Linked DNA regions of Homo sapiens: region 2 is linked to region 1. The links come from fine-mapping of genetic effects on gene expression. A gene starts in region 1. The other region holds a variant in brackets. All regions are shown on one strand. Distances are between the middles of the regions. Region 1 holds the start of RNF111 (ring finger protein 111). Region 2 overlaps FAM81A (family with sequence similarity 81 member A).

Region 1 (12,790 bases):
AAACATTTTTATTTACAATTGAACATTTTCTTTTTTTTGAGATGGAATCTTGCTCTGTCACCCAGACTGAAGGGCAGTGGCGCAATCTTGGCTCACTGCAACCTCTGCCTCCTGGGTTCAAGTCATTCTCCTGCCTCAACCTCCCAAGTAGCTGGGATTACAAGCACCCGCCACCATGCCCGGCTACTTTTTGTATTTTTTAGTAGAGACAGGGTTTTGCCACGTTGGGCAGGCTGGTCTCAAACTCCTGACCTCAGGTGATCCGCCTGCCTCAGCCTCCCAAAGTGCTAGGATTACTACAGGTGTGCACCACCATGTCCAGCCTAAACATGAATGAACGTTTTCAAAAATATATTATTTTATTTTATTTCATTTACTTATTTATTTTGAGATAGGGTCTGGCTTTGTCACCGAGGCTGGAATGCAGTGGCACAATCTCGGCTCATTGCAACCTCTGCCTCCCGGGCTCAAGCCATCCTCTCACCTCAGCCTCCCGAGTAGCTGGGACTACAGGCATGTGCCATTATGCCTGTCTAATTTTTGTATTTTTTTGGTACAGCCAGAATTTCGTCACATTGCCCAGCCTAGTCTCAAACTCCTGGGCTCAAGCAATCCACCTTCCTCAGCCTCCCAAGGTGCTATGATTACAGGCATGAGCCACTGGGCCCAGCCAAAAAAATATATTTTAAAATATGAACAATTTTCAAACCTCACAAAAGCAGAGAACAATATTATTAATACCCATGTACCCATCACCCCAACCCAACAATTATCCAGATTGTGCCAGACCTGCTTCATCTATCTTATCTCCCTCCACCACATTTTTTGGTTTTTATCTGGTATCTGTTTAAAATAACAGACATTGCTGGGCACGGTGGCCCACGTCTGTAATCCCAGCACTTTGGGAGGCCGAGACGGGCGAATCACCTGAGATCACGAGTTCAAGACCAGCCTGGCTAACATGGTGAAAAACCGTTTCTACTAAAAATACAAAAAGTTAGCAGGCGTGGTGGCGCGCTCCTGTAATCCCAGCTACTCAGGAGACTGACGCAGAAGAATTGCTTGAACCCGGGAGGTGGAGGCTTCAGTGAGCTGAGATCACACCACTGCACTCCAGCTTGGGCAACGAGGGAAACTCCATCTCAAAATAAAATAAAATAAAATAAAATACCAGACATTTGCAAGTTTTCTCCCTCATTCCTCAGTCTCTATCACTAATAAAAAGTGGTCATTTTCTTACATAAACATAATGCCATTATCATCCCTAACAAAGTTACAATAACTCCTTGATATCATCTAATACCCATCCATATTCAGATTTCCCCCAATGTTTCAAAAATGACTTTCTACAATTGGTTTGAGTCAGGGTTTAAACAACACCAACATATTGTATTTGGTTACTACACATAAAATAATTTTAATCTGTCTACATCATCTGACAGCAAATATGAAAAGCTTAACAGACAAACCAAATAATTAATTTACATTTGTAGATTCTCTAGAATCAAACCTCACCTAATGCATTTGCCGCCCCTGCTATCTGTAGCAGTCTTCCTCCAAATCGTCACTATGGCTGATTTTTTCTAGTCATTGAAGTCACAGGTCAAATTACCACCTCTAAAAAGGCCCTCCCTAACCACTCAATCTACAGTAAAACCACTTCCATCCATGCCGTATCACATGGTCCTATTTTCCTCATGGCACTTACCACTACCTGAAACCATTCTGTTTATTATGTTCCCACACACAGAACAGAATGTCAGCTCCATGAAGGCAGAGTGCCTTCACTGAAGACCAGTGACTGTGCCTAGAACATGAGACATTCAATAAATGTATCTACGTAATAATGCAGTACCGCTCTTTAAAATGTAAGCTCAGCTAAGTATTTGGAGGCTTTTTTGTTGTTTTGTTTTTTTTCAAGATGGAGTCTTGCTCTGTCACCCAGGCTGGAGTGCAGATCTCAGCTCAGTGGAACCTCCACCTCCCGGGTTCAAGCAATTCTGCCTTACCCTCTTGAGCAGCCAGGATTACAGGCGCATGCCACCACCATGCCCAGCTAATTTTTGTATTTTTTTTTTAGTACAGACGGGGTTTCACCATGTTGGCCTGGCTGCTCTCGAACCCGACCTCATGATCTACCCGCCTCGGCTTCCCAAAGTGCTGGGATTACAGGTATGAGCAAGCGCACCCAGCCTCAGCTAAGTATTTGTCTTTAAATATTTGTAATTCACTCCTCATGTAATGATATAAATTGAGTACCTGTAGAAACCTGGGCCAGCTGTTACCAAGAATCTGTAGGATGTAGGAAAGAAACAAACAGAGGTATAAGACATTCAAATGTAATTGTGGACTTTTACTGAACAATAATTACAGGTTTCTGAAAGAAAAACAAATTATTCCAGATGATTTTTAAAATGTTACCAGGAGTAATAAAAAATTTCATTTTTAGTACCATCTGAAAGCTATTAAAGCTTCAGTAATTAATATCTACAATGGGACAACAATAGCAATAATATGTGGAACAACAATCATAGTTTTTTTGTTTGTTTGTTTTGAGAAACAGTCTCGCTCTGTCGCCCAAGCTGGAGTGCAGTGAGTGGCACGATCTCCGCTTACTGCAACCTCCGCCTCCGAGGTTCAAGCCATTCTCCTGCCTCAGCTTCCCAGGCAGCTGGGACTACAGGCGCACACCACTAAGCTCGGCTAATTTTTTGTATTTTCAGTAGAGATGGGGTTTCACCATTTTGGCCAGACTGGTCACCTCAAGTGATTCGCCCGCCTTGGCCTCCCAAAGTGCTGGGATTACAGGGGTGAGCCACCACGCCTGGCCCACAGCTTCATGACAGGTTTTACACATACACATTTCATGAGGGAATTGATGCTTTTTGTACAGCATTTCTTTCTGGGGATTCAATTACGACAAACACAACAATGAATACCAAAAACCTAACTAGATATACAAACCATTAAATTTGGGACCTAAAGAAAACGAAAGTTATCTATTCTACAATTCTCATTTAAACAGAGAGACCTGAAGCCCAAGGAGGGTTAACAATAAACTCGGAGATCTAATGTATAGCAAGCAAAGATAGATCTAAAATCTAGATCTCCTGTCCTTAGCCCTATATTATTTCATAAGATAACGTTACCCATAGAACGGTAATGTCAAGTTATAACATATTTTAACTGCTATCATTTTTCAGATGGTCTCTTTTATTTCCTACTGAAGTCTTGGCCCAAAAGGGGAGAAAAAGTCAAAAGAAGGGCACATAAGTATGCCTCAAGTAAAGCATGATACAGAAACCTCTCTTTAAACTATAACAAAAAAAAAAAGAAGGAAACATCTAAAAATCTAAATGGTTTGATTCAATTAGTTTCCTTTATATTTTTTATTTTAAAGTAAAATAACTAGGAGTATCTGCTAAATGACTGCACCTTAGCTTTATACAAGCAAGGTGCTTTTCTCTTAAACATCACAACAGCTCTCTCTCAATAATCTGTAGAAATGGAGTACCAAAGTGAAATTCGTTAAGATGTAACCTCTGCTGTAATGCATTTTTCACCAAAATGAAGTCACTTTGTTTATACCTTTCTTTAAAAACCAGTTCTATGTCTGGTGAAATAACTAGCAAACAAGTGGCCAACAGACACCAAACAAAAGTTAAGAAGTGACAGAAGGATCTGCACATGATATAGCACCCGTGATAAACAAGGAGACTCATTCTTCCTACTTTTTCCTAAAATATTATTTAGATTTATAAACACCCTCACCAATTCTTAGAATACTGTTGTGAATCTTTGGTCACAAACAAATGAGCAGGAGAGAGATGATAAAGTCATTTGTCCAAGGTTAAATGGCAAGAAAGTGTCCAAAATAAGATAAATCAAGGCTTTAGAAACAATCAATTTAAAATGATTGTAAAAGTAAAAGGGCTTCCTTCTTATCCATCTGTTTCACCTCACAAATATAACCAGACTAGGGTGAAACAATGTGGCTTATACTGACATGAAGATTTTTACAAAAATACATATAGTAATAAACTATCAAAAGATGTATCTTTACTGTAATAAAGCTAAGTCCAGCGTTACAGAAGTTGTGTATGGTAATCTCAAAATCACATTCAAGCATTTACAACCATCACACACACACACAACAAAAATGGGAAAGGAAATGGAACCTTAGCTTATGTTTTTCCCAGTTTGTTCTTTTTAGTTCAAGAGGCCCCTAAAACAAGAAAATTATAGATAAAATACCAAATGAAATAAAGTTTAGATTAAGTCACATTCAAAAGCTACAGGAAATCCTACAAAACGTAGTCTATGTCAGCTGGCATCTTACCATTCAAGAGAATTCTAAATTAATGCCGCACATAAATCAAGAAACAGGAAAGCTTACAACAACACAATGGAGTCACCCCACAACACACACACGAACAAATTAAATGAATACCTCATACTTTCTGGTATTTTTTGAATAATCAAAACTTAGGTTGAGAAATACCCATCTGTAAAGATCTATCTACTATAACCTATTTAAGAACTGTTGTAACAAATCTATTTCTGCTGCACTGAACAGATATTCCCACTATAGCACTGACACTGACTCTGATAAATTATCGAAGGACAATAGTAAAAACATCAGTTTCTTTTTAAATGACCAACAAGCCAACTCCATACAAAATCTGACGCGTCTGTATTTCAGCTGTTCCGCGGACTACGTTTCCTTGATCACAGCAGCAGCAGGCGACTCCCTAGCCGTCAGGGCTGACTTAGCGCCCTCCAACTCCCCGGGTCCGGGTTACCTTCATCACTCCATTGTCAAATCGCACTCCCACGCCTCGGTCCTCAGCCCCCATCCTGAGACTCTAGGGAGAGTCGGAAGTGGGAGAGAAATCCCCTCACCCACACTCCCTCACTGTAGGCTGTGGGTGTGTCGGTAGACGAATGCCTTGCCCAAACACAAATCGTCTGCGGAGACCCAGACCCTAAGTCACCACCGAGCCAGAGATAACCGGCCGGTCACCGACCCCAGCCTTCCGCGGCCGCAGCCCTTCCTCTTTCTCCCCTCCAGGCCGGCCCCTCCCCCGTTGCGCGCACGCGCGGCCTCCAATGGATCCCCTCCCCCCCCGTTCCCCTCACCTTAATCATTAGCCACCCTCTTCTCTTCCAGGGTCCGGGAATCACTGACCCAGGAAGGAAGACAGAAATGTAAGGCGTAAAGAGTAATGCGTCGAGAGCCAGCGATCTGCGCCTCAGACGTCGGCCTAATAGGCCCCTAGAGTCAAGAACAGTGTCTGTCACCGCCACCAAAACTGTACGTGCGGCAGCGCCTGGACTCGGCCCAGCTAAGCCGGCGTGGGTTCAGAATGCCTAATTTGGTCCCACAAGAACTCCTTCTCTGAAGCTGCGGGCGTTTCTACGCTGCGCAAACCGAACACCTCCTCGCCGTCGCCGCCACTGCCGCTGCTCCCCTACAGCCGCCGCCGCCGCTTCGCCGCCGCCGCCGCCTAACCAATTCCTCCCCTACCGAGGAGAGCACGACACTAGGGCTCTTTACGACAGTTCGGAAAGTGAGAGCGCAGTAGCCTTCACGCCTCCATTAACATCTGTTTGTTTCTGCGCTTGCTCGATTCCCGTTTCTCACCGTCCCGCCCCCTCGGTCCCGGCCCTCCCCCTTTGTACTGGTTTTATCAGTCTGTTGGCGAACTGAAAGGTGTCACAAAGCTCATTATTTAATTTTCTTTGGTGATTATGCGTTCAACATTTAAGCCAAATCTTGACTACATCTTGGTTCATTTTTTCGTAACTAAAAATTAACCAACTACAGAATTGATACATTTACAGATATACGTAAACAAAAACATCATGGGTTAGTGTCTTTCACAACAAATGATACCCATATCATATGCGCTAATGACATAAAGATCACGGCACCTCACTGTTAAAGTGAATTTGCTTCCGGAATCAGATCAAAAGTGGTCACATATCTCCTGCGAACTCGGGCTGTACAATCGCATAAGCCTCCTTGTTTATTTTATAAAAGTCAGTAGATAACAAATGCGTCATTATATGCATTAGGAGGATAGAGAGAGGATGAGCTTCAGAGTCCATCAGGCAGACTTCCTTTCAAAGTCCAGTGGTGCCACTTAAGAGTTCTCTGATTGATGAGATCCTTATAAATCTTAGTTTCCTCCTCTATAAATTGGGATAACGTATTTACCTCAAAAGGTTCTTGTTAGATTAAATGAGACAATTTATATAATGCTCTGAACATTACTTGCCAATTAAGTGTTCACTAAACATTAATTCCCTCCCTTTGCCATCAACTCATCTTTTTCAATACTTTTTTTGTTCACTCATATTTTCCGTATCATTCAGTAAGCAAATGATTTTGGCCGGGCACGGTGGCTCACGCCTGTAATCCCAGCACTTTGGGAGGCCTAGGCGGGTGGACTACCTGAGATCAGGAGTTCAAGACCAGCCTGGCCAACATGGTGAAACTCCTTCTCCACTAAAAATACAAAAACTAGCTGGGCGTGGTGGCGGACGCCTGTAATCCCAGCTACTCGGCAGGCTGAGGCAGGAGAATCGCTTGAGCCAGGGTGGCCGAGGTTGCAGTGAGCCATGATCAAGCCATTGCACCCCAGCCCGGGTGACAGGGAGACTCCGTCTCCAAGAAAAAAAAAAAAAAGGCTGGGCGCGGTGGCTCACGCCTGTAATCCCAGCACTTTTGGAGGCCAAGGCGGGCGGATCATGAGGTCAGGAGATGGAGACCATCCTGGCTAACACGGTGAAACGCTGTCTCTACTAAAAATACAAAAAATTAGCCGGGCGTAGTGGCGGGCGCCTGTAACCCCAGCTACTCGGGAGGCTGACACAGGAGAATTGCTAGGACCCGGGAGGCAGAGGTTGTAGTGAGTGCGAGATTGTGCCACTGCACTCCAGCCTGGGCGACAGAGTGAGATTCCGTCTCAAAACAAACAAACAAACAAACAAACAAAACACACACACACACACACACACAAATGATTTTAAAATTACAATAATGATCAAGGATAGCAGATTGTGTGGGAAAACTAAAAGAGCATTCGACTAGGATTTTCCTCAATCCTCCTATTTTCTCACTCTTAAACATAGAATTTTGCCCGGACTATCTTATCTTCTCCCTTGATTTTAACTGTTACTATCTCATGACTTCTCAAACCTGTATTTCCAGCTCTAACCTTTTTTCTGAAGCTTTTGACCTGTGTTCTTCAATTAGGTAGACACCAGCCATATGTGGCTGCTGAGCACTTAAAATGTGGCTAGACTCCCTCCTCTTCTCCCTCTCCCCTCCCCTTTTCCTTTTCCGTCTCCCTAAAAAAATAAATAAATAAAAATAATTGAGAAGTGCTTTAAGTGAAAAATACACATCGAATTTCAAAGGTACAATACAAAAAAAGACTGAAAAATCTCAGTACTTTTTAATATTTATTATATGTTGAAATAATATTTTGGATATATTGGGTTAAATCAGTGGTTCTGAAGCTGGGATGATTTAGCAACATCCGGAGACATTGCTGTTTGTTACAACTCAGGGAGGAGGGGCGTGGCTACTGGCATCTATCCACTAGGATAGAGGCTAGGGATGCTGGCCTCTCCACAACAAAGAATTCTTTGGCCGAAAATGTTAATAATGCAGTTGAGAAACCCCAGATGAAATAAAAGGGTGAGGGCTTCAACCCTGTTGGGATGCTGAAGGAAAAGAGTCAGTAGAAAAAAGGAGTGGAAAGATAAAGAAAATAAAGGGATGCGCAATGGAGAAAAATACCTATGGAGCCAGAGGAAATGAGATTTAAAGCTCAGATGGAAATTTAGCCTTGGATAGGAGAAGGGATGGCCTTTCCACTGAAACAGGTGAGAAGGAAGAAGACTGCAGTTTAGGTATGTTAGCTTCAGGGGGCAAATTGAGGGCTTGTTCACTGAATGACCTTGACTTCCTTATGAAACATGAGGTAGGGCCATCTATAAACATATGAGCTTTGGAAAATGCTGGGCGGAGAGTGACTAGAAGAGATTTTAAAAATCAGAATAGTCACTACCATAATGGCAGAAGGGCAACAAATCAAAGCCCAGAGCAGAAGAGGAGTGAGGTTGAAGGGACAGGTGTTACGCAGTTGTATTTAGAAGAATAATGGTAGATTCGGGTGAGAAGCGGCTCTCACCTAATTTACACATAACAATTTTCTGATTTCTATGCTTCTGCTTCCACCACTGTCACCACACCACCCCAAACTCAACCTTAAGCCACAGTTAGAGTATGGCAGAAACTGATTAGACATTAAATTGCTTAAATCTTTCAATGATCCTCCATCACCTTCAAGTTAAAAATCCTTAGCATGACAAATAAAGCCCTTCAAAATCCAGATTCTTCAGTATCACTTCATACCAGCCCTAGTTCCCATCCTGTCCCCTGACCCTTCCTGGACCTCGGTGGACTTCTCAAACTTCTTGTAATTCTCCAGGAAAAAAAAAAAAAATATATATATATATATATAATATATATATAAAAGAATATATAATATATATTATATATATAAAAGAATATATGTTATATATAAGAATATATAATATATATGTAAAAGAATATATATATATATTATTCCTATATAACTATCAATTTTCCCCATGAAGCTAACAAACCTAATTGCATTAGTACAATCTCACTTCTTCCCTCTCACATGTTTCAGTGGAAAGGCTATCCTTTCTCCTATCCAAGGCTAATTCTTCCATGTGAGATTTGGATCTCATTTCCTCTGCCTACATAAGAACTTTCTTCAACTGACCATCTTTTTATTTCCATTATCTTTCCTCTCTCTTTTTCTACTGTTTCTTACCCTTCAGAATACCAGCAAGGTTCAAGACTCACCCGATCTTAACTCCATATTCTTGTAGATATATGTCTCTCTTTTTCCATCTCTCTGCCTTTGCACAGTTCCTTCTGTCTCAAAATTCACCCCCTTTCTCCACATTTCCCACCCATGCTTTATCTGCTTAACAAATTCTTACCCATTCCTCCAAGCCGTCTTCCATGAAGCATTTCCTTACCGCTCTCCCCACCCCTTGAAATGGACTTACTCCAGTTTTAGTACTCTCTTCAAGCTTTATACATACATCTAAGTATTATGATTGTTTACATACATACCTGTCTCAAAACTTAAAATCAGAGAAAATGTCTTTCTCTCTTAAGTAGAAAAATAGCACTCAAATATTTATTGAACTGTACTGAATAAGAAGATTGGGATTCTAATCTCAATTTTGCCAGAAGAAACCAGAAATCCTTAATCAAATCACTTTAAATATCTGAAAATTAATTTTACTCACTTGTGGAGAGATCAAGTTTTTCCAAATGCACTCCAAACCAAATTCTGCTTTCCTCAAACTGCAGCCAAATAATGTTTACCAAATTAGTCTGCATATATGGGCCAGCAGAATCTAACTACTGCCTGACAGGAATTTGAGGAGTTTGGTCTAAACATGGAAATACTGGGCTGAATTAGTGAGTTACCTGCAATCAAGGGTAATAAGAAAATTTCTACAAACTATCAAAGTCAGAAGGAAAGACTGGTATGCCCATCATCCATTGCATAGTTCACAACTGTATAAAGTCTGCAAGTGAGAGTAACTAATTATGTGGTCAGCTTCGTGAGCTCTTTGGAAGAAATGGAGAAAAGTTTGAAGATGTAATGCAAGAGTTAGAAGATCTTGGGAAATTCTTGAAAGTATTTAGTGAACTATTTCCTCAGATGTAAAGCTTTGGAAATAATTAAAAGGATCTCAGAGATGAACTAATCAGAACACTTCGTGATTCAGAATATTTTATTTTCTTCTTGGCATATGAAGATATCACTGGAACTTAAAACTGAAAGAAAAGTGCTATAGACTCCATAACTGCTGATTTAGTTGAGGTAGCACAGTTCTCATTAAAATTTTCTATATGGGCTGGGTGTGGCGGCTCATCCCTGTAATCCCAGCGCTTTGGGAGGCAGAAAAGGGTGATCACCTGAGGACAAGAGTTGGAGACCAGCCTGGCCAACATAGTGAAACCCCATCTCTACTAAAAATACAAAAATTAGCCGCACATGGTGGCAGGCACCTGTAATCCCAGCTACTCAAGAGGCTGAGGCAGGCAATTGCTTGAGCCCAGGAGGTGGAGGTTGCAGTGAGCCAAGATCGTGCCACTGCACTCCAGCCTGGGCAACAGAACAAGACTTCACCTCAAAAAATACGTATCTAGATAAAAAATGATTTCAGGCTATGTGATTGGAAAGAGACTATTTTTAAAGATTATATATGTAGCATATACTACATATAGTACTATATAATCTTTATTATATGTACATAGAAACAGATAGATAGTAATTAGACACAGCCCTTTATCCTACTAAACTGTTTTGCAATCAATGCAATCATAGATTCTGAAAAATTGAGGAGCTATTTAGCAGAAGGATAACCTCAAAAGACAATACCTTTGTGATGAGTACTTATCAACTAATAAATTTACAATTTTCTTTGGAAGGCAACTTTCAAGATATATTTGAAATATCAAGAGGCCAGGCGCAGTGGCTCATGCCTGTAATCCCAGCATTTTGGGAGGCCGAGGTGGTTGGATCACCTGAGGCTGGGAGTTCGAGACTTGGCTGGCCAACATGGTGAAACCCCGTCTCTACTAAAAACACAAAGAAATTAGCTGGGCACACGCCTGTAATCCCAGCTACTTGGGAGGCTGAAACAGGAGAATTGCTTGAACCCAGGAGGCGGAGGTTGCAGTGAGCCAAGATCATGCCGAACAGAGCAAGACTCTGTCAGAAGAAGAAGGAGAAGGAGAAGGAGAAGGAGAAGGAGAGGAAGAGGAAGAAGAAGAAGAAGAAGAAGAAGAAGAAGAAGAAGAAGAAGAAGAAGAAGAAGACGACTCAATAACTAATACTATCTCTGTGACTCTGTTTCTAAAAAACAGAGGTAACAAATTATGGACTAACCAGGGGACACAGAATGCCTGGAATTTTGCAGATGAGCAAAACTTCAAATATCATGATATGTTTCTGGTTATCAGGCCAAATTCTGGGCATGTCTGAGGCTCTCTCATTCTGTGAAAGTATATTTTTAAGATAAAAGTGTAGAAAAATGAAAGTGAAAGCTGCCATTCACCATTGGTAATGTAAGCCTAGAACCACAAGCAAGGATTTCCAACTGACTGATAACCATTCTCAGAAATAGTTTAGTCTTTTAATTACCAATATTTTTACACACTTGGTTAAAGTTAGTCAGAGGTTTACCAGTGAGCATTTTCATTAAGTTGTTGTTAACTCTTGAAATGCTTTTGCAATGTCGCTTTTAAAATTCAGAATTTTTAATGCGCTCACCTCTATTAGCAATCTTTTTTACAATTACAAGTTTCTGGCCAGGTGCAGGGACTCACATCTGTAATCTAAGTGCTTTGGGAGGCTAAGTTGGGACAATCACTTGAACCTAGGAGTTCAAGACCGGCCTGGGCAAAATAGTGAGGCTCCATCTCTACTAAAAATCCAAAAAAATTAGCAGGACATTATGGCATGTGCCTGTAGTCCCAGCTACTCAGGAGGCTGAGACAGGAGAATCACTTGAGCCTGGGAGATTTAGGCTGCAGTGAACTATGAACACGTCACTGCACTCCAGCCTGGGTGACAGAGTGGGACCTATCTCAAAAAAAACAAAAGTTTCTGATCATTGAAAAGTTAGACTGGATAACCTCCAAAGTGCCTTAAAGTTCTAACATTTCATATTTTGCTTCAGACCTAATTAGATTTATGAGAACGCTATATTACAATTTCAAGTGTGATTTACATACTGGCTACTTAGTTGCAAATTCAGAACAGGAAGTAAAGACACTTTGATGCATTTGCTTGTTATTATTTACAGATCATGCAAAGTTTTCCAAAATCATTTAAAAGTTTCTCTAAACTACATTAGTATTAGTTTTAATTGCACAAACTAATACTTGATTATGATTTTAAGTTACAGGATTGCAGAGACTGTGCTTTGCTCAGTTGAAAGATTATATAGTACATTGTTCTCAGGAGGCTGAGGCAGGAGGATCACTGGAGCCCAGGTACTCAGGGCTGCAATGTGCTATGAACGTGACTGTGAATAGCCACTACACTCCAGCCAGGGCAACACAGTGAGACCATGTTTCAAAAAAAAAAAAAGAAAGAAAAAAATTATTATACAGTACATTAAAAACACTGATATATTGGGGGACTGTTCAGAGATAAAGATATAGAAGAAGAAGAAGAAAGAGAATAAAATGAAAGTGCCCATGTGCTAAAAGGGAATTTTAAAAATTTATTCGATAACTTGAATCCAAACACCTTTAGCAGTCAGGGCTTCTGATAAGATTGTAATTATTTTTGACTTTTGACAGAACATAAATCACTATTATGCAACAGAAATTTGTAAATATTAGAGATTTTAGTTTAATATCTTAATTTTAAAATTTGCTTAAGTATTTTTAAATTCTGAAAATATCAAGTGATTAAGGTTGACAATCACGAAACTCTGAAACCCAATCTATTTAAATTATACCGATAAGAAAAATCTATTTTCAAACCGTTCACAATTTAGAATTGAGTTAAACTAGGAAAGAGTGCCACCTACTGAATCAAAATTGCTTAAACATCTCAACATTAAGTTCATTTTGCAAAACCTGTAAAGCTCTAGCATTTTTTTCCTCAAAGATGTACGTTTAAGATAATCTTCATACAGCAAATATTGT
Region 2 (12,790 bases), 540 kb before region 1:
CCCCGTCTTCTGCAGAGGCATCCATTTGCCCAAGAGGGAACTAGGACTGTTACAACAGGAACTCAAAGAGGACGCAGTCCATATTCAGTTTTGAAATTCAGAATAGATACCTGGAAAGCACAGAAAGACGATAGTCTTAAAAGCCAGGCTTTGTCATGAAAGAATTTTCTAAGTTCCTTTGGCTCCTAGAACTGTGTCAGAGTCACTAACTCTAAGCCTAAGTCAGATGACAAACTCACTTCCATGATGCAGAAGGAATACTCCTGCTACCATTAAGGGACTTAAGGCTCCCTCATCCCCCTAGAAAGGAAGAAATGACAGCGAGAAGGCCACCCTAGAGAGGAAGCAGAAATAGAAAGCCGGTTCTCTTTTTCACACAAGTGGAGTGTGGGGAGGAGAAAGGAACGTTGACAAACGTGTTCTCCCTTTTCTTCCTCTTGAGGTGAAACTCTGCAGTGGACAAACTGGTAAAAATGCCCAGGTAGGCTGGAGGTAGCTGAGAACCTTGTAGGAGGAAGAGGGAAGGTGAAGACTTACTAAAGACACCCGGCATTTGGTCCCGCCCAACATGGTTTGGGCAGCAGCACAGCAGCTGCTAGACAGGTAAACTCTAGGCCAGAGGGTTCCTGGGTGAGGCCAGAGGAAGTGATGGACCAGCAGGTGCCTGTGGCAAGGACAAGGGTCTGCTCTGTCCAGGACTTGTTCGCGGACACAGGGATGAGCACCTAGCACAATGTCGGGTACTCAAAAAGCCTTAGCTAGCCCTAGAGGGTATTGGTTTATTAGAACACGAGAGCCACACAGCACCAAAGGAAAAGCAGATAGGTGCTATGGAGAAACAGTGTGATAGCTACAGAAGCAAATTACTCTCCTTAAGCATTACGTCAGTTAGGGTCCATTCAAGAAAACAGAATCCTCCCTAGGTATTCCAAACACAGATAATTTAATAAAGGGAATTGGTCACCCACATTATGGAAACTGAGAAGCCAACCAGGAGATAATGAGTCATCCAGAGATTATAAGAGCAGGAAGCCCCTATTAGCCACGTGGCTGAAAGGACAACACATTGGCAACTAGATGGACATTGAATGCCTGAATCATAAATAGGCTTATTTTTATAAAAAATATTTAATAAGATGGCCAGGTGTGGTGGCTCACGCCTGTAATCCCAGCACTTTGGGAGGCCGAGGTGGGGGGATCACGAGGTCAGGAGTTTGAGACCAACCTGACCAACATGGTGAAACCCTGTCTCTACTAAAAATACAAAAATTAGCCGGGCATGGTGGCACTCACCTGTAATCCCAGCTACTCAGGAGGCTGAGGCAGGAGAATCGCTTGAACCCGGGAGGCGGAGGTTGCAGAGAGCCGAGGTCGCGCCACTGCACTCCAGCCTAGGTGACAGAGAGAGACTCAGTCTCAAAATAATAATAATAAGATGGCCAGGCGTGGTGGCTTACGCCTGTAATCCCAGCACTTTGGGAGGCCGAGGCTGGCAAATCACAAGATCAGGAGATCAAGATCATCCTAGCCAACATAGTGAAACCCTGTCTCTACTAAAAATACAAAAATTATCTGGGCGTACTGGCACATGCCTGTAATCCCAGCTACTCAGGAGGCTGAGGCAGGAGAATAGCTTGAACCAGGGAGTCAGAGATTGCAGTGAGCCGAGATCACACCACTGCACTCCAGCCTGGCAACAGAGCAAGACTCCATCTCAAAAAACAAACAAACAAGCAAACAAAAAGCAACAACAACAAAAAAAACCCAAAAACAAACCATATTTAATAAGATGTAGGTAAACTTTTATTTTTATTTATTTATTTTTTGAAACTAGGTCTCACTTTGCCACCCACGCTGGAGTGCATTGGGGTAGTCTCAGCTTACTGCAGCCTCGACCTCCTGGGCTCAGTGAGCCTCCCACCTGAGTCCCCAGAGTAGCTAAGACTAAATCTCACCTTGTTGCACAGGCTGGTATTGAACTCCTGAGTTCAAGTGATCTGCTTGCCTTAGCCTCCCAAAGTGCTGGGATTACAGGTGTCAGCCACAGCACCAGGCCAAGATGTAGGTACATTTTAAACATTAAAATCAGCTTTAAACAATTTTTGCTTAAAAATATATCTTTGGCCGGGCACAGTAGCTTACACCCGCATTCCCAGCACTTTGAGAGGCTAAGGCAGGCAGATCACTTGAGGTCAGGAGTTCCAGACCAGCCTGGCCAACATGGCAAAACTCCCTCTCTGCTAAAAATGCAAAAATTAGCTAGGAGTGGTGGCTCATGCCTGTAGTCCCGGCTATTGGGGAGGGTGAGACAGGAGAATGGCTGAAACCTGGGAGGTGGAGACTACAGTGAGCCGAGATTGCACTACTGCACTCCAGCCTGGGTGACAGAGTGAGACTCCGTCTCAAAAAAAAAAAAAAATCTTCTTTAACTTGTATTTTATCATTAAATACAGGCAAGAAGGCGGTTTGTTTTGGGAAAGGGCTGTTAATCACCTTGTTTTAAGAAACTAAGTTCCTCCCAAACTTAGTTCAGCCTATGCCCAGGAATGAACAAAGACAGCTTGGAGCTTAGAAGCAAGATGGAGTTGGCTAGGTCAGATCTTTTTTGCTGTCTCAGCTATAATTTTGCACTAGCGGTTTCATGATCTCCAAGGGCTCTTTTCCCGAGGCATTCCTTGGTTCTGGGTTCTCCCTAGTGAAACAGATTCCCTAGGAGTTTTCATTCTCTCCAGGTGGGGGCAGCAAAGGACAGTGAATCCCATGGGCGGGCCTGGTAGTGCTGTGGAGAGCTCCTCGCACTTCTCTGGCGGCTGGCAGTTAAGTGCTGGAAATCTGCAAACATCTTCGCTCCCCGCCCTCTCTTCCTCCATGTCTCAGAGGAGTCACACCTGCTCAGAGTCAGATCATTGCTTTACCTGTGGCCCAAGTCGGTTTAAAGAATAATTAAACTACAAGTTTGAAAATTAAACAAAGCATGGTAATTAGAAATAAAAACAGACCAGAGACCATCTAAAGCAATCAGATACCCCCAAGATAAGCTAATTATAAAAACTAAGCACTGAATTTAGCTCCAAATTTCTAGATATCAGGGCAGGGTCAGGATTAGGGTAAAGCAGCCTCAAATGCAAAAGGTAAGGAGAGGCCGGGTGTGGTGGCTCACACCAGTAATCCCAGCATTTTGGGAGGCTGAGTTGGGAGGATTCCTGGAGGCCAGGAGTTAAGACCTGCCTGGGCAACATAGTAAGACCCCATATCTACAAATTTTTTTTTTAATTTTAATTAGCCAGGCATGGTGGTGCACACCTGTAATCCTAGCTACTCAGGAGACTGAGGCTGTAATGAGCTATGAGCTATGATCACACCACAGCTTCCAGCCTGGGTGACAGAGGGAGACCCTGTTTTAAAAAAAAAAAAAAAAAAAAGTGATAAGGAGAGGGGAAGACCAAAACCTCAATAACCAAGTAAATCATATTTTAATGTAATATTTCTAAAAATCAAAATTAAAAAACCCTCACAAAAAATATGTCCAATTTTTGCATAAAAACATGTATATAGAGAGAAATACTTTGTCTTTTGCCTCAATTCCAAAATGACACCACATAGCACAGTCAGATCTGGTCTTTAGTTAAGATTTGATATTTTGTTCACCTGGAATTTTTTTTTTTTTAGACAGAGTCTCGCTCTGTTGCCCAGGCTGGAGTGCAGTGGCACGATCTCAGCTCACTGCAAGCTCCGCCTCCCGGGTTCGCATCATTCTCCTGCCTCAGCCTCCCGAGTAGCTGGGACTACAGGCGCCCACCACCACGCCCGGCTAATTTTTTGTATTTTTTAGTAGAGATGGGGTTTCACCGTGTTAGCCAGATGGTCTTGACCTCCTGACCTCGTGATCCGCCCGCCTTGGCCTCCCAAAGTGCTAGGATTACAGGTGTGAGCCACCGCGCCTGGCCCTGTTCATCTGGAATTTTTTAGTATTAATGGTGATCTTTTAAAATATTACATTAAAATATTGTAATCTTAGAGTATTTGGTGCCCCTCTAAATTTATCAAGGTGAATGCCTCACTGTGACTCACCTTCATCCCAGACCTGCGAGGGGCCCCTCACTAGGGAGCATCAGAATCCCTGGACTCCCCTGGCCAACAAGCCCTTGCCAGGCATCCCACATGCCCAGGATGCCCTAGGGCAAGCCTGGCAGACCCACAGTTCACAAGACACCACCCCATCGGCCTTGGGCTGGCTCTTCCCCCTGCATCCGGTGCCAGCCACCAAATCCTTCCCAACACAGTGCTCCAGGCACCTCTATCTACTGATCAGAACTGACAGATGAGATAAAAATCTTTTTTAAAAAATTTATTGTGGTAAGGACATGTAACATGAGATCTACCCTCTTAACGAAGTTTTAAGTGTATAACACATGGCTGTTGACTATAGGTGCAATGTTATACGGCAGATCTCTAGAGTTGTGTTTTGTTTTGTTTTGTTTTGTTTTGTTTTTTTGAGATGGAGTCTTGCTCTGTCGCTCAGGCTGGAGTGCAATGGCATGATCTCAGCTCACTGCAACCTCTGCCTCCCAGGTTAAAGTGATTCTCCTGCCTCAGCCTCCCGAGTAGCTGGGATTACAGGTGCATGCCACCACGCCTGGCTAATTTTTTTATTTTTAGTAGAGACAGAGTTTCACCATGTTGGCCAGGCTGGTCTCAAACTCCTGACCTCAGGTGATCTACCTGACTTGGCCTCCCAAAGTGCTGGGATTACAGGCTTGGGCCACCATGTCTGGCCAGATCTCTAGAGTTTATTCATCTTGCTTAAAGATAAAATCTTAAAAATAAAGACCTAGGAAATTATTCTAACAGGGACAACTGACATAATATTGTAGGAATGAGACTGGAGAGGATTTCCAGCTCCAAAGCTCATTTTAGGCTGACAGATGATGGTGCAGAGCTGTAGATAGGGCTGTGTATTAGTCTGTTCTCATGCTGCTAATAAATACATACCTGAGACTGGGTAATTTATAAAGGAAAGAGGTTTAATGGACTCACAGTTCCACATGGCTGGGGAGGCCTCACAGTCATGGCGTAAGGCGCATGAGGAGCAAAGTCACGTCTTACATGGCATCAGCCAAGAGTGTGTGTGCAGGGGAACTCCCCTTTATAAAACCATCAGATCTCATGAGCCTTATTCCCTATCACGAGAACAACAGGGGAAAAACCGGCCCCCATGATTCAATTACCTCCCACCAGGTCCCTCCCAAGACACATGGGAATGATGGGAGCTACAATTCAAGATGAGATTTGGGTGGGGACACAGCCAAACTATATCAGGCTGTACGTTGAAAGAGTGAGGTAACTATTGCTCTAGATGCTGCTGGTCTGCGGACACTTTGAGGACCATCCAGTAGAAATTTCTGCAGTTACAGAACTCTTCCACATTCGCACAGGCAATACAGTAGGCACCAACCATGGGAGGCTACTGAGCGCTTGAAATGTGGCTAGTGCAACTAAGAAACTAAATGTTAAGACATATCTAATTCTGATGAATTTATATTTACATTTAATTGATTTAAATGACCACATATTTTCTTTTTTTTTTCCTTTTTTTTTTTTTTTTTTTTGAGATGGAGTTTCGCTCTGTCGCCCAGGCTGGAGTGCAATGGCACAATCTCGGCTCACTGCAACTTCCGCCTCCTGGGTTCACGCCATTCTCCTGCCTCAGCCTCCCGAGCAGCTGGGACTACAGGCGCCCGCAACCACACCCGGCTAATTTTTTGTATTTTTAGTAGAGATGGGGTTTCACCGTGTTAGCCAGGATGGTCTCGATCTCCTGACTTCGTGATCCGCCTGCCTCGGCCTCCCAAAGTGCTGGGATTACAGGCCTGAGCCACTGTGCCCGGCCAATGACCACATATTTTCTTTTGGCTGGAACCACCATCTTCTAATCATTTGCCTAAATGATGAAAAAAAAGGGAATGAGGAGAAGCACCTGCTCTCTGTTCCCTGGGCCTTTTAGAATGCATGGAGTTGTTCCTTTGGACACACACACGTGAATCTACAAGAAGGGAGATGTTGTAGACATCAAGGGAATGGGTACTGTTCAAAAAGGAATACCTCACAAATGTTACCATGGCAAAGCTGGAAGTCTACAGTGCTACCCAGCATGCTATTGGCATTTCTGTAAACAAACAATATTCTAGCCAAGAGAATTACTGTATATGTTGAGCATATGAAGTACTTAAAGAGCCAAGATAGTTTCCTAAACGCGGAAGGAAAACGATCAGAAAACGAAGGAACCCAAAGAGAAACGTACCTGGGTTCCGCTGAAGCACCAGCCTGCTCTACGCAGAGAAGCACACTTAGTGAACCAACAGAAGAGGGCCTGAGCTGCTGGAACCTGTTCCCTATGAATTTATGGCACAATAGGTGCCAAAAAATTAAGGACCTCTTGACTGTTAAAAAAAAATCCATGTAATTAGTGGCTACTTATTAGTGCAGCAAGCCTCAGATTTTACATTACAATCACCTGCAGGACTTGAAGCAATTTGGTGCGTCCGTCTCAGAGCCTCTGATTCAGTAGGTCTTGGTGGAGCCTGAGAGTTTTCACTTCTTTTCTTTTTTTTTTTGAGACAGACTCTCACTCTGCTGCCCAGGCTGGAGTGCAGTGGCGTGATCTCGGCTCACTGCAACCTCTGCCTCCCAGGTTCAGGCAATTCTCCTGCCTCAGCCTCCCGAGTAGCTGGGATTACAGACATGTGCCACCACGCCCGGCTAATTTTTGTGTTTTTTGTAGAGATGGGGGTTTCACCATGTTGGCCAGGCTGGTCTTGAACTCCTGACCTCAGGTGATCCGCCCACCTCAGCCTCCCAAAGTGTTGGGATTACAGGCGTAAGCCACCATGCCCACATGTACACATACCCGATTCCCCACTTTCATTTCTTTTGGGTAGGGAGCTCCACTTCTAAGCTCCCTCACATGTCTATTGGAAATTGTCAATTCATCTTGGGCCATTTTTGGTTCAGTTCATCTCAAAAAGTTATTTTGTCGTCCCTATAAATCCAGAGCTAAAGGACCTCAGCAGTATCCTTTTATAGAGTAGACACTGCACTGCAGGCCCACCTGACTGAGACTCAGAGTCCAGATTCCGGCTGGAGCAGGAAGTCGGTAAAATGTCCCCCAGTGACCCCATCCCCAGGTGTTCAGCCCCTTGTGTGATCCCCTCCCGCTGTGTGTGTGCTGGACTTGCTTTTCATGAAGAGACTAGTGGAAGTGGTGGCTTGTCACTTCTGAGATTAGGTTACAAAAGACTAGCTTCCTTCCCGTTCACCCTCTCTCTCACTGGTACTGG[T/G]GGAAGCAAGCTGCTGTGTTGTAAACAACCTGTCAGGAGGGCTGTGTGGCAGAGCAAGGGACTGATGTCACAGTGCTTTGTGATTCTTTTTCCCCCTGAAAGCCTAGTGGGATAATTACAACTTGAACGGAGCCATCTTCTCTGTTCTGCTCTACACTCCCCTACACAATCCATCTCCCGATGTGCAGAGCCAGCCAGGGACCACGACCTAGGACAGCCCAAGTGCAGGGGATGAAATGCCTGTGATCCTACAAGTCCTGTGGCACCAACTGCCCCCCACCTCTGGTGCCTCCACATTGATACAGCCAGGGGAAGACGTTTGACAAGCTAATTAGATTGCCTCATTACGTATTTGGAATCGGGGCATTAAAAAGCGAGGGTAGTCAGATGGCAGGAGGCCAAGCTCATATAGATATGGCTGATGTCAGTGGCCTAGCAAGTCACTTATGTGGGAAGCCAAAATGTCTTCGGAGGTAGTGTGGTATGCTGGTAAGGCTCCCAGAGTGCGGAAGTAGGCGGCCTGGCTTGAATCATGGCTCCCATTTATCAGCTATAGGACTTGGGGCAAGTTGCTTAACCTTTAGGTGACTCTGTTTTCTCATCTGTAAAATGGGGAAATGGTATTGAACTCAACTAGTTAAAATGAAAAGAGTTGACATACACAGGGGACACAGCACAGGCACACAGCACACACCCGAGAACTGCCAAGAGACAAGAAGGCTGCAGAGAAGGCCCTACAGCCCCGAAGCCCACAGACCAGCAGCTCCCAATGACATTCCAGTCGTCAGAGGAGCTGCCAGGACTTGAGCACTTTATTTCAACCATCAAAGCGTTTCCACAGAGAGCAAACAGAAATATTTCCTATGGCATTTTACCTAATTAAGTCTTCAGCTCAACACTGAAAGACTTTTCAATTTAAAAATCATACACCACATTTATGTGAAAATTTTATTTTTCTTTTTATTGCAAATTTCTGGTAAAGGAAAGAACATGGAAGCTGATTCTCATTTGAGCTTTGGTGAGAAGAGAACTGCACTGTGGCTCGACAGCTCACCACCTCGGCTGCACACCCAAACACGCGGAGGCCTCGGGCACGCACTGATGCCTGCGACCCACCTCCCAGAGGTTCTGACTTAATCGGTCTGGGAGGCACAGCGGGGCATCAGTAGATTTCCCAACTCCTCTGGATGATTTCAACATGTAGCCAAGGTGAGCACACCTGCGGTGGCTCATCTCAAGGGGCTGGCAATGTCAGAAGCACCTGAGAAGCTCAGCTGACAGCCAAGTGTCACCTGCTTACATCACTCCTTGGCCAGAGTCCAGCTGGTGTTCCCCGCCTCCCTCTTCCCAGGTGTCGATGTTCTGATTCCTTCTCCTCAAAGACCCCACAAGACAGAGATGCTGGAGGGGGTGTGGCTTCCTGTGCTGTGGTTTGTGCTTAAACGTGGAGAACCACATGAACCACGTGTACGCTACCACAAAAGAAATTCACTTTCTGATTGCAAAACAGCATTCGCCTTTTTTTATTTGTTAAGTGGAAATTTGTGGCAAAATAAGAAAATATGTGTTGGATAATATAGTCCCTATATAACCTCTCATGTCCAAATTTGAAAAAAAAAATTGTCAAGCCATTGACAGCAAAATATGTACTTTAGCAGCATATTTTATATGGGTAAACAGTAATAGCCAGTTAGACACTTCATTTGTGATTTGTCCTAAAAATAGAAAATGCTTTTTATTTTCCTGAGTCCTTGGCAAACAAAAAACATTTTTTTCTTTTTAATTGTTAAAGTATTCCTGTTTTTCTTTTTCCTGGGACACCCTCACAGTTCAGAACGTTGTGTCTCACTGTCAGTTTTTACATACAGAGATGAACAAACAGCACTGGGGCCAATTTTCAATGACTGATCAAATATGGCGATTGAAAATAAAACACCCATCATCTACAAAGTTGCTCAAGATGAAAGTTTCTTACAGTGCTATAAATGCAATATCAATTTGAATTGTTGTCCATACAAAAGTATGAATTTCTATTCCATTAGTAATACTGAATGATTAATACCTTAACAGCGATAAAATTTTTAGAACATTTAAAAAATACAGAGGATTCCAGTTTTACATCATACTTCTGACGGATTATCATACTTTCTATTTTGTCTGCAAAACTTTTACAGAGTACAGTGCATTGACATGATAAAACCAAGGCACAAAAATACAGTTACGATAAGTGTATATAAACCCTAGCACTTTGTGCCAATTTTGGAAACAGATCATAAAGTCTGAAAAATTACCACATTCTATTTGATTAGTGAACAATTAATTGTGCAGTAAATAGACTGTTAACCACCATTCCATTATTAAATATATGGCTATCACTATACAGGTTGTGGATAATTCAAAAATAGTTTTAAATATTAAAACCTGTAATATCTAGGTGGTCAACGCAGATATTGAGCCTTACGTTATCTAAATAAGTTTCCATTTAATTTGCAATCCACATGGCAGTTAGCAATTTTTAAACTATTTCCATTACATAAATGGTGGGGTTTATTCTAAATGTTAAATCCTTTCCCCTTACAAAAGACAGAAGATTTACAAGAAGATAACCAATATAAGAAGTGCATAGACAACGATAATAAAATCCAAATTGGACTCAAAGGTTGAAGTCTAATCTACTGGGACATTCTCTTAATTTAGGGTGAGGAGCAACACATTCCTGTGATGATTCATTAGTTTCTTAATTAAAAAAAAATCCCCATGACATTTTTCAAAATAGTAAACAGTCTTCATTAGTGCATCAAGCATTGAAGAAAAATTGTCGTCTTTCCATTCGTAAAATGAAGAAGATAAAAGCCTTTCAAAATCCAGGGCGGGGGATTTCCATTGAATTTAGAGAAGTGAAATAAACTGGTAAAAACTGTATTTCATACTTTTAACAAAAGAGTATTTTCAAGACTCAAGGTAAACATTTAGACCCATAAAAACACATTTCTTGGCACATGCACGCCATGGATGGAACAATCCTGAATGCAGCGATGGCCTGGCTACAGAGGTATCCGGCTCCTAGCCCCACTGGCAAAACTGTCTTTTAGGACCTTGTCCCAGCTCCCTTCACATGGGGGTCTCTGGCTTCTGCATCAGCTGGATTTGCTTCTGTAGCTGGTCCCTGTCCAGCTTCATCTTGGCCTCGAGAACTTGCCTGAGGGATCCTATGCTTTCATAGACGGCTGTAAACCCTTGAAGGAGAGGTAAATTTCACAACAGTTAACAATTTTTTTAAAATGCTGTATCAAATTCTATAGTATCTAGTAATGGTTGATTCAGGCAAAAATTATTAATAGATGCTAAAACCTCTGGGATGAAAGTATGATGGGGAACAGGTGAGTTTCTAGTTTCTCCCTAGAGATTACTTTTTAATTACAAAAAGGAAAAAGGAACTATTACAATGGAGAAGACTGTCATATACCCCTTTAACCAAGTGATCAAATCTCACGTCACCCATACTGGGAGAAACAACATCACGTAACTTCTGAAAAGATACCCTGAGCAGGGCACAACATCACTTCTTGACATTTTTAAAGAATACCAAAATACACAACCTAAATTATATCAAGATGAAGCAAACAGGCCTGGTACGGTGGCTCATGCCAGTAATCCCAGCACTTTGGGAGGCCAAGGCGGATGGATCACCTGAGGTCAGGAGTTCGAGCCAGCCTGGCCAACACGGCGAAACCCTGTCTCTACTAAAAATACAAAAATTAGCTGGGTATGGTGGCGCACACCTGTAGTCCCAGCTACTCGGGAGGCTGAGGCAGGGAGAATTGCTTGAACCCAGGAAGCGGACGTTGCAGTGAGCTGAGATTGTGCTACTGCACTCCAGCCTCGGCGACAGAGCAAGACTCGTCTCAAAAAAAAAAAAAAAAAAATGAAGCAAACAAATCTAAACTAGGGATAGTCTACAAAATGCTGGCTGGCTGGTATTCTTTAAAAAGGTCAACATCACTGAGAAACTGATCCAGATTAATAGAGACTAAATAAAGAAACATGACAACTAAATACGATGTGTAATTCTGGATTAGAACCTGAAGGGCCAACATCACTAATTATAGGAAAAATACAAATTAAAACCACAATGAGTTATCACCTCACACCTGTTAGGATGGCTATTATCAAAAAGACAAACGAGTACAAGCATTAGCGAGGGTGTGAAGAAAGGGGAACACTTGTACACTGTTGGTGGGAATGCAGGATGGGGCAGCCATAGTGGAAAACAGTATAGGGCAGGGGTATCCAAACTTTCAGCTTCCTTGGGCCACACTGAAAGAATTGTCTTGGGCAATACAAATACACTAACACTAATGATAGCTGATGAGTGATTTAAAAAAAAAAATCACAAAAAAATCTCATAATGTTTTAAGAAAGTTTACGAATTTGGGTTAGGCTGCATTCAAAGCCATCCTGGGTCGCATGTGGCCTGCGGGATGTGGGTTGGACAAGCTTGGTATAGAGGTTACTAAAGAAATTTAAAATAGAACTACCATACGACCCAGCAATCTCACTACTGGGTATATTCCCAAAAGAAATTAAATTACTGCCTCATAAAGATATCTGCACTCCCCTGTTCACTGCACCATTATTTACAATAGCCAAGATATGGAAACAACTGAAGTGTGTCCATCAAAAAATTAGTGAATAAAGAAATTGTGTATATATACAAATGATGAATATTATTCAGCTTTACAAAAAAGGAGAGCCTGCCATTTGTCACAAATGGATAAAAATGGAGGACATTATGCTAAGTGAAATAAGACAGATACAGAAAGAAAAATACTGCACGATCTCATATGTGGAATCTAAAAAAAGAAAAGGAAGGAAGAAGGGAAGGGGAGGGGAGGGGAAGGGAAAGGAAGGGAAGGGAAGGGAAGGGAAAGGAAAGAAAGGAAGAAAGAAAAGAAAGAGAAAGAAAGGAAAGAAAGAGAGAAAGAGAGAAGGAGGGAGGAAGGAAGGAAGGAAGGAAAGGAGGGAGGGAGGGAGGGAGGAAGGCAGGCCGAGGCGGGTGGATTACTTGAGGTCAGTAGTTTGAGACCAGCCTGGCCAACACCATGAAACTCCATCTCTACTAAAAATACAAAAATTAGCTGGGCCTGGTGGTGCACATCTACAATCCCAGCTACCCGCGGGGCTGAGGTATGAGAATCACTTGAACTTGCGAAGAATAGGTCGCAGTCAGCCGAGACTGCACCACTGCACTCCAGCCTGGGCGACAGAGCAAGACTCTGTCTAAAAAAAAAAAGAAAAGAAAGAAAGTCAAAAACATAGAGAATAAAATGGTGGTTGCCAAAGGTGGGGCGGAAGAGGAGGAAATGGGGAGATGCAGGTCAAAAGATACAAATTGCTGATATGGAGAATGAACAAGACCAGATGTCTAATGTATAGCATGAGGACTGCAGTCA

Evidence for each region. PIP is the estimated chance that this variant, and not a neighbour inherited with it, causes the effect.
Region 2: its variant is fine-mapped to the expression of RNF111 in whole blood (TOPMed, PIP above 0.99).

The regions. Positions count from the first base shown.
Region 1 is chr15:58,980,418-58,993,207 of GRCh38, reverse strand. RNF111 (ring finger protein 111) reads right to left here and starts at 5,545. Exons shown (of 14, transcript NM_017610.8): 1 at 5,140-5,545. RefSeq lists an enhancer at 1,599-2,098 and a silencer at 4,662-4,826.
Region 2 is chr15:59,519,037-59,531,826 of GRCh38, reverse strand. It overlaps FAM81A (family with sequence similarity 81 member A), which reads right to left. Exons shown (of 9, transcript NM_152450.3): 9 at 8,272-10,573. The coding sequence ends at 10,449. It also overlaps the pseudogene RPL21P114. Among named protein-coding and RNA genes, the nearest start is that of GCNT3, 86 kb to the left of the region's middle. The variant T/G (reference allele first, on the strand shown) is at 7,338.